Linked DNA regions of Homo sapiens: region 2 is linked to region 1. The links come from fine-mapping of genetic effects on gene expression. A gene starts in region 1. The other region holds a variant in brackets. All regions are shown on one strand. Distances are between the middles of the regions. Region 1 holds the start of DLGAP3 (DLG associated protein 3). Region 2 overlaps DLGAP3 (DLG associated protein 3).

The links. PIP is the estimated chance that this variant, and not a neighbour inherited with it, causes the effect.
Region 2: its variant is fine-mapped to the expression of DLGAP3 in blood mononuclear cells (TOPMed, PIP above 0.99). The same link has a PIP of 0.9 or more in whole blood.

What each region holds. Positions count from the first base shown.
Region 1 is chr1:34,926,381-34,934,706 of GRCh38, reverse strand. It overlaps DLGAP3 (DLG associated protein 3), which reads left to right and starts at 5,057. Exons shown (of 12, transcript NM_001080418.3): 1 at 5,057-5,256. RefSeq lists silencers at 4,449-4,498, 5,479-5,548.
Region 2 is chr1:34,862,754-34,871,079 of GRCh38, reverse strand. It overlaps DLGAP3 (DLG associated protein 3), which reads left to right. Exons shown (of 12, transcript NM_001080418.3): 9 at 1,991-2,475; 10 at 3,453-3,544; 11 at 3,889-4,032; 12 at 4,779-5,644. The coding sequence ends at 4,997. Among named protein-coding and RNA genes, the nearest start is that of SMIM12, 7.2 kb to the right of the region's middle. RefSeq lists enhancers at 4,536-4,665, 4,716-4,815, 4,866-4,945 and a silencer at 5,106-5,155. The variant C/G (reference allele first, on the strand shown) is at 3,426.

The sequences.
Region 1 (8,326 bases):
AGTTAGGGTTCTCCAGGGAAATAGAGCCAGTGGTCTATATGTAGACATATGGAAGGGGATTTATCAGGGGAATTGGCTCACACAATTATGAAGGCCAAGAAGTCCCACGATACACTGTCTGAAAGCTGGAAAACCAGGAAAGCCAGTGGTGTAATTCAGCCTGAGCCCAAAGGCCTGAGAATTGAGGCAGACAATGGTATAACTCTCAGTTTGAGCCTGAAGGCTTGAGAACCAGGAGCTCTGATGTCCGAGGGCTGGAGAAGATGGATGTCCCAGCTCAAGAAGAAAGCAACTTTGCCTTGCTCTGCCTTTTTTGCTCTATTTGGGACCTCAATAGATTGGATGATGCCTGCTTACACTGATGAGGTCAGATCTGTACTCAGTTTACTGATTCAAATGCTGATATCTTCTGGTAACACCCTCACAGACATATCGAGAAATAATGTTTTACCAGCTATCTGAGTATCCCTTAACCCAGTCAAGTTGACACATAAAAATGAACAATCACATTGTTTCTTATTTACAGTGCCATGTTTCCTTGTGTGTTCAGTGACAGACATTTAACTGTGAGTTATTCATTTTCTTTGGAATTTTATCTGTGGAAATTATTTGAGGCCTGAGACAAAGATTTACATTTGCTTCTGCTGGGCACCTGAGGCACTACCAATCTGGTACATTTTATACCAAATTCTTGGCTTGAGTTTTTCCAGATCCTTTAGGTAGAGTGGATCTGACTGCATGTGATGTGAAATTTAACTCGTAGTAATGGATACTCAGGAGGTGATTCTTCCTTCCTACACTCATTACTACTGCCAAGGTTTAAAGCTTGCAATTTTCTTACAATTTCCTAGGTTTGGGGATGAGGTTTTTTCTAGCTCTCCTGTACATTGAGAGTACAGCCCTTTGGGGTTCTAAGCTTATGCAGGGGAGTATGTGACCATCTTGGGCAGACTCGGGTTTTATCTTTTATCTCTGGTGCCCTGAGAGATCATGAAAACTGAAGTTAAATTTCATCTGTCAGCAAATGACCCTGTATTAGTTATTAAATGCCATAATATTGCGGCATAATACCATACCATACCAAAGCTCAGTAGCTTAAATTAATAAGCATTCATTATTGCTCAAGAGTCTTCAAATTGGCTCGACAGTTCTTCTCATTCAGCTGGTCTCACTAATGTGTCTGCAGTCAGCTGTGGACAGGTAGATATCTCTGCTGCTCTTGCCTGGGCTCTCTCACATGTTTGGAGATCTGCTGGCTATAGGCGGGTCCATGATGATCTTGGCTGGGACAGTTGGGATGGTATAGCTCTCTTCCACCTTGTCACTCATCCTCCAGCTGTCTCAGGCTTGAGGCTTGTTCTTATAGTGAAGGCAGGAGACCAAGAGAAATAGTAGAAGTATTCATGTCTCTGAAGGCCTAAGCTCAGAACTGGCACTACATGACTTCTTCCAGATTCCATTGGCGAAAGCAAGTTACAAGTCCACTCAGATTTAAGGGGTGGGAAAGTAGGGTCTGCCTCTTTTTTTTTTTTTTTCTCCTCAGAGATCCTTGTTCCAAAGAGTCCACCTGTTGATGCAGGGAGTTGCAAAGTCACAGGGCAAAGGAGATGGATTCGGGTGGAGGTAGAGAATTGGTGCCCTTTTTGCAACACATCTTTCACAGCCCCCAAGGCTAAAGTTGGCTTCAGTGCTCTGCTTACTTCTCTGGTTCTGCCTTTACCTAGATTTTGGCTGGAGTGATTCTTATTTTCTTGCCAGCACATTGATACATTTAAGAATATTAAAAATGTACATAGTTATACATATATATTCTCTTCTTTATTGTGTTTTAATAAAAATATTTTATCTTTTTTTTTTTTTTTTGCTATTTATCATGCTTTCAGTGGGAAGATCAACTAAGGCAACTGTCATACTGATTGACACTGAGTCTCTGTCTTTGCACATGTGACTCTCTACCTGAAAGTCTCTCTCCCAATCTTTGAGACTCCATTCAAATGCTTCTTTTGTGCTTCTTTTTTTTTTTTTTGAGATGGAGTCTTGCTCTGTCGTCCAGGCTGGAGTGCAGTGGCGTGATCTCTGCTCACTGCAAGCTCCACCTCCTGGGTTCATGCCATTCTCCTGCCTCAGCCTCCCGAGTAGCTGGGACTACAGATGCCCGCCACCATGCCCAGCTAATTTTGTTTTTGTACTTTTAGTAGAGACGAGGTTTCACTGTGTTTGCCAGGATGGTCTCGATCTCCTGACCTCATGATCTGCCTGCCTTGGCCTCCCAAAGTGCTGGGATTACAGGCGTGAGCCACCGCGCCCAGCTTTTTGTGCTTCTTTGACTGTCCTCTTCACCTAGGCAGAGCTAGGCCCAGGGTGAGCCCCTTGTCCAAAAATTATTAACAATTTTAAGACAGTGACAGCAGAATATTCTACCAAGAGTGATGCCTTTCTACATGTGGGGCTCTGTACGACTGCACAGGTCACACTCCCATGAAGCTGGCCCTGATAGTAATTATTGGTTTACATCTCCATCTCCCTTATTAATCAGTTATTAATCACTGGATGGCTATGGGAGAACACTGTCTAAGGTAAGCCTGTCTGATTAACCTGTATGCCCCCAAGAGGCTAGCAAGGTGCCAGGTATAATCAGTAAAGGGTTGTTGAATGAACAAATGAAAATAACATTATGTTCTCAATTCTAAAATGCACCAACTCTAATAGCTTTAACAGAAAGGTAAGAAGAGCCATATTAAATGTCCCTGTTTATTGTAAGATGCTTTCCAGTTTCAGAATAGTTTACAAAATACAGGTCTTAGAACTGCGAAAACACGGTGGTGCTTTTTAACATCCTCTATCACGGCTGTTCTTTTTTTTTTTTTTTTTTTTTTTGAGACGGAGTTCCAGGCAGGAGTGCAATGGTGCAATCTCTGCTCACTGCAACCTCTGCCTCCCGGATTCAAGTGATTCGCCTGCCTCAGCCTCTGAGTAGCTGGGATTACAGGCGCCCAACACCACACCGGGCTAATTTTTGTATTTCGGGTAGAGACAGGGTTTCACCATGTTGGCCAGGCTGATCTCGAACTCCCGACCTCAGGTGATCCGTCTGCCTTAGCCTCCCAAAGTGCTGGGATTACAGGCGTGAGCCACTGTGCCCGGCCGTCAGCTCATCCTTTTTTTTTTTTTTCTTTAAGACTGAATCTGGCTCTGTTGCCCAGGCTGCAGTGTGGCACAGTCTCAGCTCACTGCAACCTGTGCCTCCCGGGTTCAAGCAATTCTCCTGCCTCAGCCTCCTGAGTAGCTGGGATTACAGGCACGTGCCACTGCACTCGGCTAATTTTTTGTAATTTTAGTAGAGACGGGATTTTACCATGTTGGCCAGGCTGGTGTTGAACTCCTGACCTCAGGTAATCCACCCGCCTTGGCCTCCCAAAGTGCTAGGATTATAAGCATGAGCCACTGCGCTCGGCCCAACGGCTGTTCTTATGCTCCACGGAAAGTGAGATGTTTCCTTCAGTTCTAAAGTGGGTTCCTGGGAACAACTTTCTTATTTTCATGACATCTGCTCTTGACTGAACCCTGGGCTGGAAATGGTCTGCAACCTCACTTCATGATTGAAGAGACAATGAACCGTTCTTGTGAGCAGCAGGGTAGGTGACCAATCTACTAGTCTCTTACCAGACTTCTAGGTATCCCTTGGGAAGAGGGCTCTCCAAGCCCCTTATGTTATTTAATGTAATGTGGCATCTTAAAACATCATCTCCCTGGGGAAAAGAGGTCTTGGCTCCCAGTTCTAGCTCTTCTGGGCCTTTGGCTTCTCCTTTCCGTGCCTCACTTTCCCCTTTATACAGGGAGGAGAGCCGGTGGCCCCACAAGGAAACAGAGAGCAGGGAGTTGTTGGGGTGCGGGGTGGGGGCCGTTGAATCAGAACAACTCCAAGGTATGTTCCTAGAGAGGTGGGCAGTCTCAAGCCTCCCAAGCCCACACCTCACCATCCCAAGCTTTCAAGACCGGAAAAGGTAGAGGAGGGAAGAGGGCTTTAAGGATGCCCACTGAACCTCCACCCCCAACTTTCAGCGCCGGAGGCAGTGTTTCCTCACACCTACCCTGGAAAGCCGGAATCCGGAGCCACCCCTTCCCCCACGTCTTCAGCCCCTCCCCCTGCGGCTTCCCCACCGTGGCCCCCTCCCCCCCATTACAGCATCGCTCTGGGCGCCAAGACGGATTCAAGCCAGGGGACTGCTGCAGTCCGCTCTCCGCCTCTCGGCTCCCGCAGCCTGTGTCCGGGCTCCGCAGCCTCCAGCTGTGCTTCGGACAGTCCCTTTCCCCCCACCCCGACCCCGCCATGGCACAATCCCAGGCTCAGGGCCCAGAGGCGGGCGGGCACAGTGGGCACGGGCGGGGGCCCAGCACAGGCGGCAGGTACAGCGGGGCTCTCCCTCCACACTGGGGATGCCTCGGCTGTGCGGACTGTGGGTGGGGGACGCCTGCCAGCGGCTCCGAGGCCGGGCACAGCGCCCCATCCTGGCAGGGGCTGGGGCCGAAGAGGGGGGCTCCCTGACCCCAAGCCAGGAGCTGAGGTCAGGCGGCCGACCGGGAAAGCCCGAAGGAGAGTCTCCTAAGCGGACGGGCCTGGGGGCTGTGTGTGACATTCAGGGCGTGACTGCCCCTCGGCGGGGGGCGAGACCCGGTCCGTGAGGCTGAGCTGGTCCCCGACCGCCCGCCCGCCGCCGGGCTTGGGTCCCTGTACCCAGGTCGGCTGTGCGTGGCCGTGACACTTCGGGTGCCTGTTCCTGGGTCCCCGGGGAGGGGGATCTCATTCCTGCCCCTACGCTGGGCGCCCCCAGCACCGTCGCTCAGCGAGGTGGGCGCTCCTCCGGGACCCCGGCGGCCGCCCGCGGGCGGCGACCTCGGCCCTCCTGGGTCCGCGCGGGGGCGGGGAGCTCGGTCCCCCTCCCTCTTCCTCTCCCTCTCCCTCTCCCTGCTCGGCTGCCCTGCGCGGGGGCGGGGGCGGGGGCGGAGCGCGCGGGCGGGATCCCCCCGCCTCCCCTTCCCGGTCCCCGGGAAATCCAGCCTCCGTGGCTTGGCCGCCTCCCGCTCCCGCGCCCGCTGCCGCTCGGCGCTCGCTTGGGGCTCCGCAGCCGGCGCGGCCCCTCAGCTGGGGGCTCCGCAGTGCCGGGCCCCGGTCCCTGCCCGCCTGCCCAACGCCGCAGCGCCCCCGGCCCGGGCCGCCGGCACCATGTAACCCGGCCGGAGCCCGAGCCGGGCCAGGTAAGCCGCGGGGAGGAGTGGGGACGGGGCCGCGCTCGCGGCTCCCTCTGCAGCGCCCCCCAGGCACGGCCCGGCTGCGGCCCCGGCGCCGCCCACGCCCCGGGCTCCGGCGCTCGGCTCCCGGCCCCGGGAGGGGGGAGGGGCTGGGCCTCCTCAGCTGCCCCCGCTCCTGCCCCGGCCTGGCTGCCCGCGGGCCCGACCCGAGGGGCGGGCAGGGGACCACGCGGACCGCGGACCCACGCTCCCGGTCAGGGCCGCGGGGACAGGCCAGCCCCGGCCCAGCCCTCGCCCGGCTGGAGGCTCGGGTCTGGGAGGGAGTAGCCAGCTGGTTGTGGGGGAAGTCGTGGTGCTGGGGAGATCCGGAGAGAAGTTTCCTCTGCAGGTGTGTGAATGTGAGTGCGTGTCGCTGTGTGTCTGTGCCGAGTGTGTCACTGTGTGGGTCTGTGGGCGATTGTGTGTGCCGGTGAGTGTATGCCGTGAGTGTGTGCGTGTGTCACTGTGGGCGAGAGTGTGTGTGCATGTTAGTGGGTGTATGCAGCGTGAGTGTGGAGGGTGGTACTGTGTATGCATCTGTGGACATGTGAGTGAATGAGTGTGTGTTGTCCCCATGTGTGCCTGTGTGTGTCTGTGAGTGTGTGAATGGATGTGTGTGCCGGCGTGACTGTCTCTGTGAGTGGGTCCCGGTATCTGCCCTGTGTGACTGTGTGTGTGTGTGTGTGCGTGTGCGCGCGCGTGCGTTGGCTGTGTGAGAGAGAGTGTATCTGAGCGCGGTTCACTCTGAATCACCCACACCTGGGCTCTGTCCCCCCCACTGTCCCCCCATTCCTGGTGGGATATGGGACAGGGAGATGAGACTTTTCCGAGGTCAGATCATTCCCCACTTCTCTGGGGACCCCTGACCCTTGATTCAGGCAAGAGCTTTGTGGCACTCCCCAGCTTGGTCTCTACCTTCACCTACCTCAGGGGGTGCCCTCTGGGATGTTGCTGGTCGTGTCCTTCCTGCATGCTAAGGCCCCTGGTGGGTGGGAGGGGGGATCTGGGGCGAGCTGGAGTATGTGCCTGCGTGTGCTGCTTCTCCTTTTGGGGGCCTGGGAACTTGTGTCATCTCAATAATGTTTCACCAAGGGCCTTTTAGAGCTAGGAGATGAGGAGGCCAGGTGGAAGCGTCTGCCCTGTTAGTCATCAGAGCAGGTGGCGCTCTCCCAGACTTCCAAGTCCCAAACCTTCAAGTTCTGGGTTATTGGTTCAGTCCACTGGCTCCGGGTGGGTCTGTACTAAGCTCTTTGAAGTAATAATAATAAAATAATGCCCTCATATTAGTTCAGGGCTTTTGAAAATGCTGCCCTCTGAACTCTTCTTATTTCCCCAACAGCCTTGGGAAGCAGGCAGGACAGGTATCACGTTAAGCCATATGCAACTGCAATATTCAACTGTTTTTATTTAACCTACAAAAACAGCAATTTCATATGGTTCAACCAAATATAATGCCGATTTACAGATGAAGATGTTGAGGCTTGAGAAATGAATTGCATTTTCCACAACCACACACTGCTAGTTAGTGGTACAGAAAGACCTCAGCCCAGGTCTTTCAGTGACCCAAAGAACTGGGCTGGGCCAAGGTTAGAGAGTGGTACTTCCTGGTGTGCTCTCTCTGACCCTGGGGGCACTGCCCTCTACCACTGCGCAGCATTCCCTGAATGCTGGGGCTACTTCTGCACCCAGCTGCCAATGCCTAAAAGAGTGGGGGGTGGGGGGAGAAGAGAGGAGGGAGGGGAGGGAGAGGCTTCGTGAGTTGGCAGTGAATCAGGGTCTAAAAAGGGAGCTGGGAGGGCTAGGGTGGCAGGTGTTTCTAAAAGGAACATGAACATAGGATGAACGGCCTCACATACAGCCCCCGCATCTCCCACCCGCCACTGCCCCACTGATCTGGCAGGCAGGGCCCGCTGAGTTTTGTGCCAGGGGGCTCACATCCAACGAGTGAGCTTGTATGTAGCTGTAGAATGATGGCCAGGAGAGGAACCTTAGTATTGACTTGGTCCAACCTCTTCATTACAAACCGGGGACTCTGAAGCCCCAAGAAGGGAGGGGACTTGCCCAAGGTCACACAACGAATTTGTGAGTTCCTAGGCTAATCTTAGACGAGGAACTTTGCAATCCTCCATGTTGCCTTCTATTCCTGAACTCTCCCCACCCCCATCAGAGCTGAGTACAGGGGATTTTTGGAAAAGAAATGAAGACTCAAAAAGCCTAAGGCTGTACATCTTTCAGCTTGGGACTCCTTGCCAAAGAGAGGGCGCTACAGATGTCGCTGGGGATAGGGATTCCTAGCCACACCCACCACCGAGGTAGGCCATGGGCTTGTCTTGTCTTGATTCCTGCTGGTGAGGGGCTGGAGCTGCTACAGGCCAGACTCCCAGACTTTCTCATGTTAGTACCTGCTTTCAGCGGCTGCCTGACACCTAACATCATCTCTTCCAGCTGATGTTGGGGCTCGAGCTGGCTAAGCTTGTTTTCCTTCATCCTCCCCAGTTTCCAGTGCATTTTGCCTCTAGCTGGATAGACCATTCCTTACCTTATTGGGTTCCTAATGAATAGAGAAACTTCTGGGGCTTGTCTGATTTAGGAAGGGTCTGTAGTTACCCCCAAACCCTTTCTAATGAAATCTTCCAGGAGTCTAGGACAAATGATAAAGGGATTACCCCCATTTTACAGGTGGGGAGACTGAAATTCAGCAAGGGGCCCCGTATTTGGTTGTTTTTTAGTTTTTTGGGGGTGAGGTGATGAAGGGAGCAAATGATGACAAAAACTTTTGCCTAGAGGAGCTTCCAAAGACCCCTTCTGGTCTTACCATCCCCACGGTCAGGAAACCTTCCCAGATTCTGATTTCATTCCCACTTGGTAGAGTCAAAGCTTTGTCACTCAGTGGGGGTTGGAAGAACAGCTGCGTACCCTCCACTATGCAAGCATTATGTCTTGATTTCCTCTTTATCCACCCTGCCCCTCCCCAGTCTGAAGGCTGCTGGCTCAGCGGGCCTCCTGCCGTCTGGGGAGTCTGGGTTTGAGCTGGGGT
Region 2 (8,326 bases), 64 kb after region 1:
GAGGGCCCCAGATCTTAAAATATGCAAAATATAATTTTAGAGAGAGGAACTACCTTGGCAATTACTTATCTATTTCTATAATTGTATATATGTGTGTATTTTTAGATGTATATGTGTGTATATTTATATCTAATACATATATTTTAAATACATACACACATACACATTGGATGACCTAGATGGAGGGTGAGTGACAAAGGCACACAGTGAGAAAGCCAGCATTAGAACTCAGAGCTAACTCCTGGCCCCGTGCTCTTCCTCTGCAGGGTACTGATGGAGGCAGAGGTATCTGAAAGGAGGCCAGTCTAATCATCAGGGCAGATGGTGATGCAAACCTTGACCAGGGCAGGACAGGGCAGACACTGAGGGGAAGACTGTGTGGGAGGCAATGAGGATATGTTCTCTCTCCTTCTCCCTCTCTGGGTGGGGGTTGGGACATAGGGCTCGTTGGAGACTGCACATGAGTGCATCTCTCCTTCCTGGGTCCTGCAGCATCCTTCTGGGCCTGGTTTCTATGGCAACAGGCTCCCAGCAGGCAGCCTGCCAGCTGGAGAGAAGTAGGCAGGCAGGCAGGGAGAGAAGGCCTGGGCAGCAAGAGAAAGGCTGAAGTTGCGGGGGTTGGGAGAGTCTCTTGGGGAGGTGGAGGGACCCTAGAGCTGGGCCCACAATCCCTTCTGACCATGTAGGGGTGGAGGTAGCTCAGGACACACAGGCTTTTCTTTTGTGGTCCTTGAATTTCCAAACCTTGATCTTCTGTTTATCCCCCACCTCCCACATCTCCTGACTCCCACTTCTTAAAGTATTGCCTGGTCCCAACCTCATGCATCTTAAGCGGCCACTGACTTCTTTATAGAAAAGAACTCTGAATTCAGGGAAAAAATGAAAACGGCCAGTTGACTTTTTGGTTTGCATAAGATTTGCATATTATTAACTCAAAGACAAGAAATTTCCAGGCCCTATGTCATTCCTGCAAACAACTTAATTCAGCTCCACTGGCACTGACTTACTGTGTCTGGCCAGGCTCTGGGCTGAGCCATCGGGGTCCCTAGAGAAGTCCTCCCAGCTGCAGGCCCACTCCACCTCCAGCTGCTCCAAGGCATTTCTTCCTGTGATGTTCTAGCAGCTGGTGCAGTGGGAAGTGCTTGGACTGTGGAGCCCAGCAGCGCTGAGTCCAAATCCTGGCTCTGCTACTTTGAAGCTGGGTTTACTTAGTTTACTCATCTCTAGGTAGAGCTGAGGACACTCTAGTGCAGCTGGTGTAAACTAGCATAGACATAGAATTTGTTAAAATATTGAAATACTTCGGCCAGGCGTGGTGGCTCACACCTGTAATCCCAGCACGTTGGGAGGCCAAGGCGGGTGGATAACCTGAGGTCGGGAGTTCGAGACCAGCCTGACCAACATGGAGAAACCCTGTCTCTTCCAAAAAGAGACAAAAGGCGCATGCCTGTAATCCCAGTTACTCGGGAGGCTGAAGCAGGAGAATCGCTTGAACCCGGGAGGCGGAGGTTGCGGTGAGCCGAGATCGCGCCATTGCACTCCAGCCTGGGCAACAAGAGCAAAACTCCATCTCCAAAAAAAAAAAAAAAAAAAAAAAAATTGAAATATCTTCTGCCTTCACTGGTAAAGAGCCACCACCCTGGCTCCTCCCTGACCCCTCTAGCCCACCCCACAATCTAGCCTCTCCAGGGCACTGCTGCAGCATTTTGGTCTGTGCCTGCTCTGCCTGGTATATGCCAGCATCTGCTCTGTCCATGGACTGAACTGGTTGCTAAATAGCTTGGATATCACCCCTATCTAGAGGCAGTGCAATAGGTAGGTATATTATGTACGTAGCTGTTGCAAGGACCAATATATTTAAAGTGCATAGGTTAATGTCCATCACTTTGTAGGTTCCCTTTCTCATTCCCTTCCTTTTTTTTGCTTGGGGTGGGGGTGAGAGCTGGCATGAGCCTGGGCAATGGGGGATGACAGCCACCCCTCTCCCCAGGCGAGCAAGGTTCAAGCGCTCCAATAGTGTGACGGCTGGCGTGCAGGCAGACCTGGAGCTGGAGGGCCTGGCAGGCCTGGCCACGGTGGCCACAGAAGACAAGGCCCTGCAGTTTGGACGCTCCTTCCAGAGGCACGCCTCTGAGCCCCAGCCTGGGCCCCGGGCCCCCACCTACTCAGTCTTCCGCACGGTCCACACGCAGGGCCAGTGGGCCTACCGCGAGGGCTACCCACTGCCGTACGAGCCGCCGGCCACCGATGGGTCGCCCGGCCCTGCCCCCGCCCCCACCCCCGGCCCTGGGGCCGGCCGCCGTGACTCCTGGATAGAGCGCGGTTCACGTAGCCTCCCCGACTCAGGCCGCGCATCCCCCTGCCCACGCGACGGCGAGTGGTTCATCAAGATGCTGCGGGCAGAGGTGGAGAAGCTGGAGCACTGGTGCCAGCAGATGGAGCGTGAGGCGGAGGACTATGAGCTACCCGAGGAGAGTGAGTCACGGCATCGGAACAAGGGGACTCTGGGGACCATGGCCTCGTGTGTGCTCAGGAGACCCTGATGGGGGTGGCTGGGGCTGCAGTGTAACAGGAGGCCCCTTCGGTTGGTGCCTCACTGGTCTTCTGCACTGGAGCGTGGCGGGTCAACATCGGCAGCAAGACATGCTGGGAGCTCTTGAAAGGGAGCAGGGTGCACATGGTGCAGCTTTAGAGGCCAGGGCTGGGACTGCAGACACTGCAGGCCAAAGGGCTGGGCCTTCTATGGATGGCTGCTAGTCCAAATCACCAAGTTTATGGGGACTAAGGGAACTCCGTTCAGATCTGGACTGGTGTGGGGATCCAGGTGGTGCGACCAAGATTACAGAGAGGGAGGCAGTTCACAATGTCAGATCCTGTCTGAGGCACAGAAGAGGGAGATTCAGCCAGGGAGATGTGGCCCTGGCCCGAGGGAGAGCATGGCCCTTCCTGTAAGTCAGATCCACTGGGAGACACAGTCTTACCCCAGAATCTCTGAGTTGAGGGGACAGTGGCTATGAAGATGTGTTATGTACATGAAATTACTTGGTCATTCTTAAAGAGCCAAGGAGTCTTGCATGCACTGGGGAGTGATGAACAAAGCTTAGCCAGTGGGTGGTCATTGAGCTAATGCCCTGGCCAAGGCTATAGGGCTAGGCTGGGGCTGGTTTCCGTCTGTTCTCTGATACGGGAGGGAGAAAGGATAAAGAAGGATGAGCACTCAAGAAATGTAGGCTGTATGAAGGAGGGAACATCAGTGTCTGAGGATACAGTCTTGGTGTAGTGGAGCGAGAACTTGTTAGGAACTTGAGGATGGGATGGGGCTGGGGCTGGAGGAGACTGATGGATACACAGTGCCAAGCAACCGAGGGGTCAGCGTCATTCAGGGCAGACTTCGTGGAGGCTGGGGAAGGAGATGCATCATTTCC[C/G]TCCCTGAATTTCCTTCTGCTTTCTAGTCCTGGAGAAGATCCGCAGTGCTGTGGGCAGCACACAACTTCTCCTGTCCCAGAAGGTTCAGCAGTTCTTCCGGCTGTGTCAGCAAAGCATGGTGAGTGCCCATAGTAGTAGATCCTACCAGATACATGTGACCCAGAGTGTGTGTGTGCTGGAGGTGAGACAGGCAGGTGACCCAGAGTGAGTGTGTACCAGAGGTGAGACCAGGCCTGCATGCCTTCTGGGGTAGCTGTGAGTCTTGTGCCTGGAGGTAGGACCAGGTGTTTGTGCACAAGAAGGGGAGTCCTGGGCTCGCTCTTGTCCCCCTGTCTCCCAGCCCCCACCCACTCTCCCAGGCTGAGCTTCCTGGCAGTAAGGGTGGATAGGACTTTCTCTTGTCCTGGCTGGGGCTCAGACCTCCTTGACCAATCACTTTCCCTCCATCTTCCTCTGTTGCAGGATCCCACTGCGTTCCCTGTGCCCACCTTCCAGGACCTGGCGGGTTTCTGGGACCTCCTACAGCTCTCCATCGAGGATGTGACCCTCAAGTTCCTGGAGCTACAGCAACTCAAGGCCAACAGCTGGAAACTCCTGGAGCCTAAGGTGGGGCTGGGGTGCCTTCAGGCAAAGAGGCCAGACTCTGGGAAATTCCCCTCCCCAGAGAGGTGGAGGGTGGGACGAACAAGGGGGCAGGGGAAGGGATCCATGGGCAGCAAGGGCAGCCTTGGACAGGTGATAGGTGACCATCCCCTTCCAGAGTGACCACGCTCGTGGCCACTGCCGTCTGCTTGGCCCCAGTGCTCATCACTGCTTGAGCTGCCAGAACCCCAAGGCTTCCTCAGCGCGGGGGAGCGGGGTTGGGGGGGTGGCGGCGGCTGCAGCTGGAGAGAGCAAAAGTAGACCTTACGGAAGGACAGACTGTCCTCAGTTCGGGCCTAGGCATCGACGGCAGAGCCTTGAGGGTCCCCTCAGCCGCCAGGTCCCTGGACCTTGTCTGCGATGAGGGCCAGAGGCCTGGTATGTGCACCCTCATTGCGGAGCCTGGGTCGGGAACTCCCTCCTTCGGGTCGGGACCCGGAGTGAAAAACCGGCTCTGCTGCGAGCTGTTGAGAACGGCGCCACCAGGGGGCGCTCGAACGCGCCGCGCTTTGGTGGAAAATGTGGGGATTTGACCTTGTCGGAACAGGAGCACCTGGGGCTTCAGGTCACGGGATCCGTGGCGGATTCTGAGCGCCATCGCGTTCGGAGCCACGCGGTCGTCAGCACTCTGGGCGCGGGGGTGCGGGGGCGGACACCTGGGTGTTGGGATGGTTCGGCGCCCCAGCTCAGCGACGCCCTCTGCCCCGCAGGAGGAGAAGAAGGTCCCTCCGCCGATACCAAAGAAGCCCCTGCGGGGCCGGGGCGTGCCGGTGAAGGAGCGCTCCCTGGACTCCGTGGACCGGCAGCGGCAGGAAGCGCGCAAGCGGCTCCTGGCGGCCAAGCGCGCCGCTTCCTTCCGCCACAGCTCGGCCACCGAGAGCGCCGACAGCATCGAGATCTACATCCCCGAGGCCCAGACCAGGCTGTGACCGGTCCGGCCCGCCCAGCCCGGCCCGGGCCCGCGGTTCTCCACCCGTACTGTACACCCAGCGTCGAGGTCACTGTGAACGCGGGCCGCCCCGTGCGCCCGCCCCACCGGCACCGGACGCCCCGGCCCCCGGGCCCGTCACACTCTCGTGGGTTTTTTACCTTCCTGATCCCACGCGAAGGCGCCCGGGCTGGGCAGGGGGCCGTGCCTCTCCGCCCTGCGCCCCTCACCTGGATCCCCTGCCCACCTGGTCCGACGCTTTGTCCCCACCTCCTCCCCATGGGCACCATCTCTGCCATTCTTTCCCCCACGGGCCAGGCCGGGCCGGGTCCCTCATCTGGGCTCTGCGTCCCCCCCTCCCCCACCCCGCGGGGCTGGGCTTCGTGGGGATCAAGCTTCGTGGCTTTTTATGAAGAATCCCGAACCCTGCCTAGGAGCCCGCCCCACCCTCCCAGGGGCTCCATCCTCAGCCCTCTGCCCACTGGGCCCAGGGACCACAGTGGCTGGACCAACCCAGGACCAGGGCGCCTGGGCCTCTCCCCTTTCCCAGCGGCTGGGGAGGGGAGATGGGGGCTTCCCCTCACCACACCTGTGGCTGTTCCCACATCCCCTTGAATATCCCAGGAAAAATAAAACGGCAGAACTGCACTCGAGCCAGCTGCTCTCTCCAGAAGAGGCCACCTCCGTCCCGTGTGTGGGAGGACGGGGGTGAAGGGAGAAGGGACCGGGAGCCCACTCTCTTGGTTTGGAGATAGCAGGGGTTGCCTGAGCTCCTTCCAGGGATGGGCCAGCTGGTGGAAAGGAGATTCGGCCCCCTGATGCCCACAGTAAGGGCCTGGACCCTCCTGGAGGGGCCCAGGTGGGGTGAAGAGGGGGAGGGTGCCAAGCTCTCCGTTCTTCCTATTTCGGTGTATCCCGTTCTGCCTCCCAGTCCGCAGGGTTCCCCCAGAGAGGGAAGTCCGGAGCTCGCCGGGCACGCAGCATGTGCTCAATAAACCGGGAGTGTGGTTATTGTTAGGTATTGACAAATAATTGGTTTCCCTTCCCCTAGGGGCACAATGTTCCTTCTGCTCCAGTCATTCCTGATCAGCAGCAGAAAATCTTCAGTCCTGCCGCATTTTCTGATGCCTCCTATGGGTGGCCACCTTGGTGGAGGCTGGGGTGGGGGAAGAGGAAGTACAAAGAACAGAGCTCTCCTGGGAAGCTAAATGGCAACCAGAACCTAGTATCGATGGCTTTATTGAGTGGTCAGTGTGGGTCAGGCAAGGGGTGAGTGCTTTACATGAATGTGGCTGGTCCTTACAATAGAAGAGAAAGCCAAAGCTCAGGGCAGGTTACAAGACCTGTCTGAGGTCACAGGACTAAATGTGGTGGACCCAGGTCTAATGCCAAATCATGAGCTTTTAGCTTTGCAGGCTTCTTAGACCAGAGAGGGCTGATGGCAGTCTCCACCCAGAAAGCCCCTTTCCACTCCTTGAGCAGTCCTTTGGGTTGGTGTGTCACCTCCAGGCAGGAGGAAAAGCCTTCAGGATTGGCTGCTTTTCTGGGCCACACTGGGTCAGCTAATTCTTCTCATTCATTTATCCAGCAGACATTTATCACTTTTGGGCGCCACAGGAATAGCCCTGAACAAGATGTAGTTTCTACCCTTAATGGAACTTATGGTCATATGGGAAAAACAGACAAATAAGCAAGCAGTTAAAATACAGGAGTAAGTGCCAGAAAGATGATTAGAGATTAGCTGCTGAAGGAGGGCCAGGGCTGGGAAGAATGTTCCAAGATCAGGGAACAGCTGTGCAAAGGCTTGGAAGAGGAAGAGACATTGGGAGCACAGAGACTTGATTATATCAGTGTTTGGGTCTCATTGAGGCAGGTGGCCTGGGTCTTGTGGGCTGTAGGGAGCCATAGAAGGGTTTTGAACAGAGGAGTGGCATGAACGTTTTATAGACTGGTTTGGTAGACAACTTTGGAAAAGCAAGAGATGGTCCACGTACACACATGAGCCTGGAAGGTGAGGAGAACTCTAATGTGATCTGAATTCCCAAAAGCAGTCCGTTTGGAGGTGATCCCATACAGACTCCTGGGCCTGGTCCAAGACTTAGTGAATAGACTCTGCCCTCGAATAAGGTTTTAACAAGTGCTTCACAAGATTCTGAGCAGCCAGCTTTGGGAAGACTTAAATTGGATGACTGTCCAAAGGTCTCCAGTAGAAGGGCTGGGTCAGTTTACCTCTCTGAGGTTGTTTTATCATCTCTAAAATTGGGGGCATGGGTGAGGTTTGAACTCAGAGCAATGCTGTAAAACAGATATTGTTTTCACCCCCATTTACAGATGAGGAAATGGGCTTGGAGAGGTTTAAACAGCTTACCTCAAACCATGAAGCCAGGAAGTGGCTGAGTCTGAGTTTAACCTTTACATTTATACAGCATTTTATGGGTCTATGACTTTATTCATAGAGTTTTCCATGTCTGGTGTGGATGAGTCTCCTTTGGTTCTTGTGGCCTAGGTAGTTATGCTGAGCCCCATAGATAGTGAAAGATTAGGTCCAGTCCTTTTGCTTGAGTTGCTTACAGTCTGGCCATGGCCAGCATATAAACAGAAAGTTATGGTGCAAAGGGAAACCTGTTCTCCCAGAGGGGCCAAGGGATTGAGAGGAGAGAGCCTCTAGCAACCAGGGTGTTTTAGTCCATTTTGTGCTGCTATAACAATACCACAGACTGGATAACTTATAATGAACAGGTATTTATTGGCTCACAGTTCTGGGTGCTGGGGAATTCAGTGTCAAGGGGCTGGCAACTTGTGAGGGCCTTCTTGCTGTGTCATCCCATGGCAGGTGAGAGGGCAAGAGAGGGCAAGAGGGAGTTGAACTTGCCCTTTTATAAGGGTGTCAATCCACCCATGAGAGTGCAGCCCTCATGGCCTAATAACCTCTTAAAGGTCCCACCTCTTAATACAATGACAAATTTCAGTGTAAGTTTTGGAGGGTACAACCATAGCACAGGCAGTCTGGGAAAGCCTTCTGCCTTGTGAGTTGGATCTTGCAGGATGAATTAGCATTTTGTAGTCAAGGAAGAGAAGGGAGAAATTCATTTCTGGCCAAGGGACCAACCTGGGCAAAGCCATGGAAGCACATGTGTGTTGGGAATGAAAGCATAGGCTGGAGAGGGTGACAGGTTATGGTGGCTGTGGAGGGCGTGGAGGAGATACGGCCAGAAGGGACCCATAGAGTTGGGGGTGGGAGGCTAAGATGGAAACCTCATAGTTTTATTTGAAAGATGAAACTACGGCCAAAAGAAAGGAAATGGACTGGATGGGGCAACAAGACAGCAG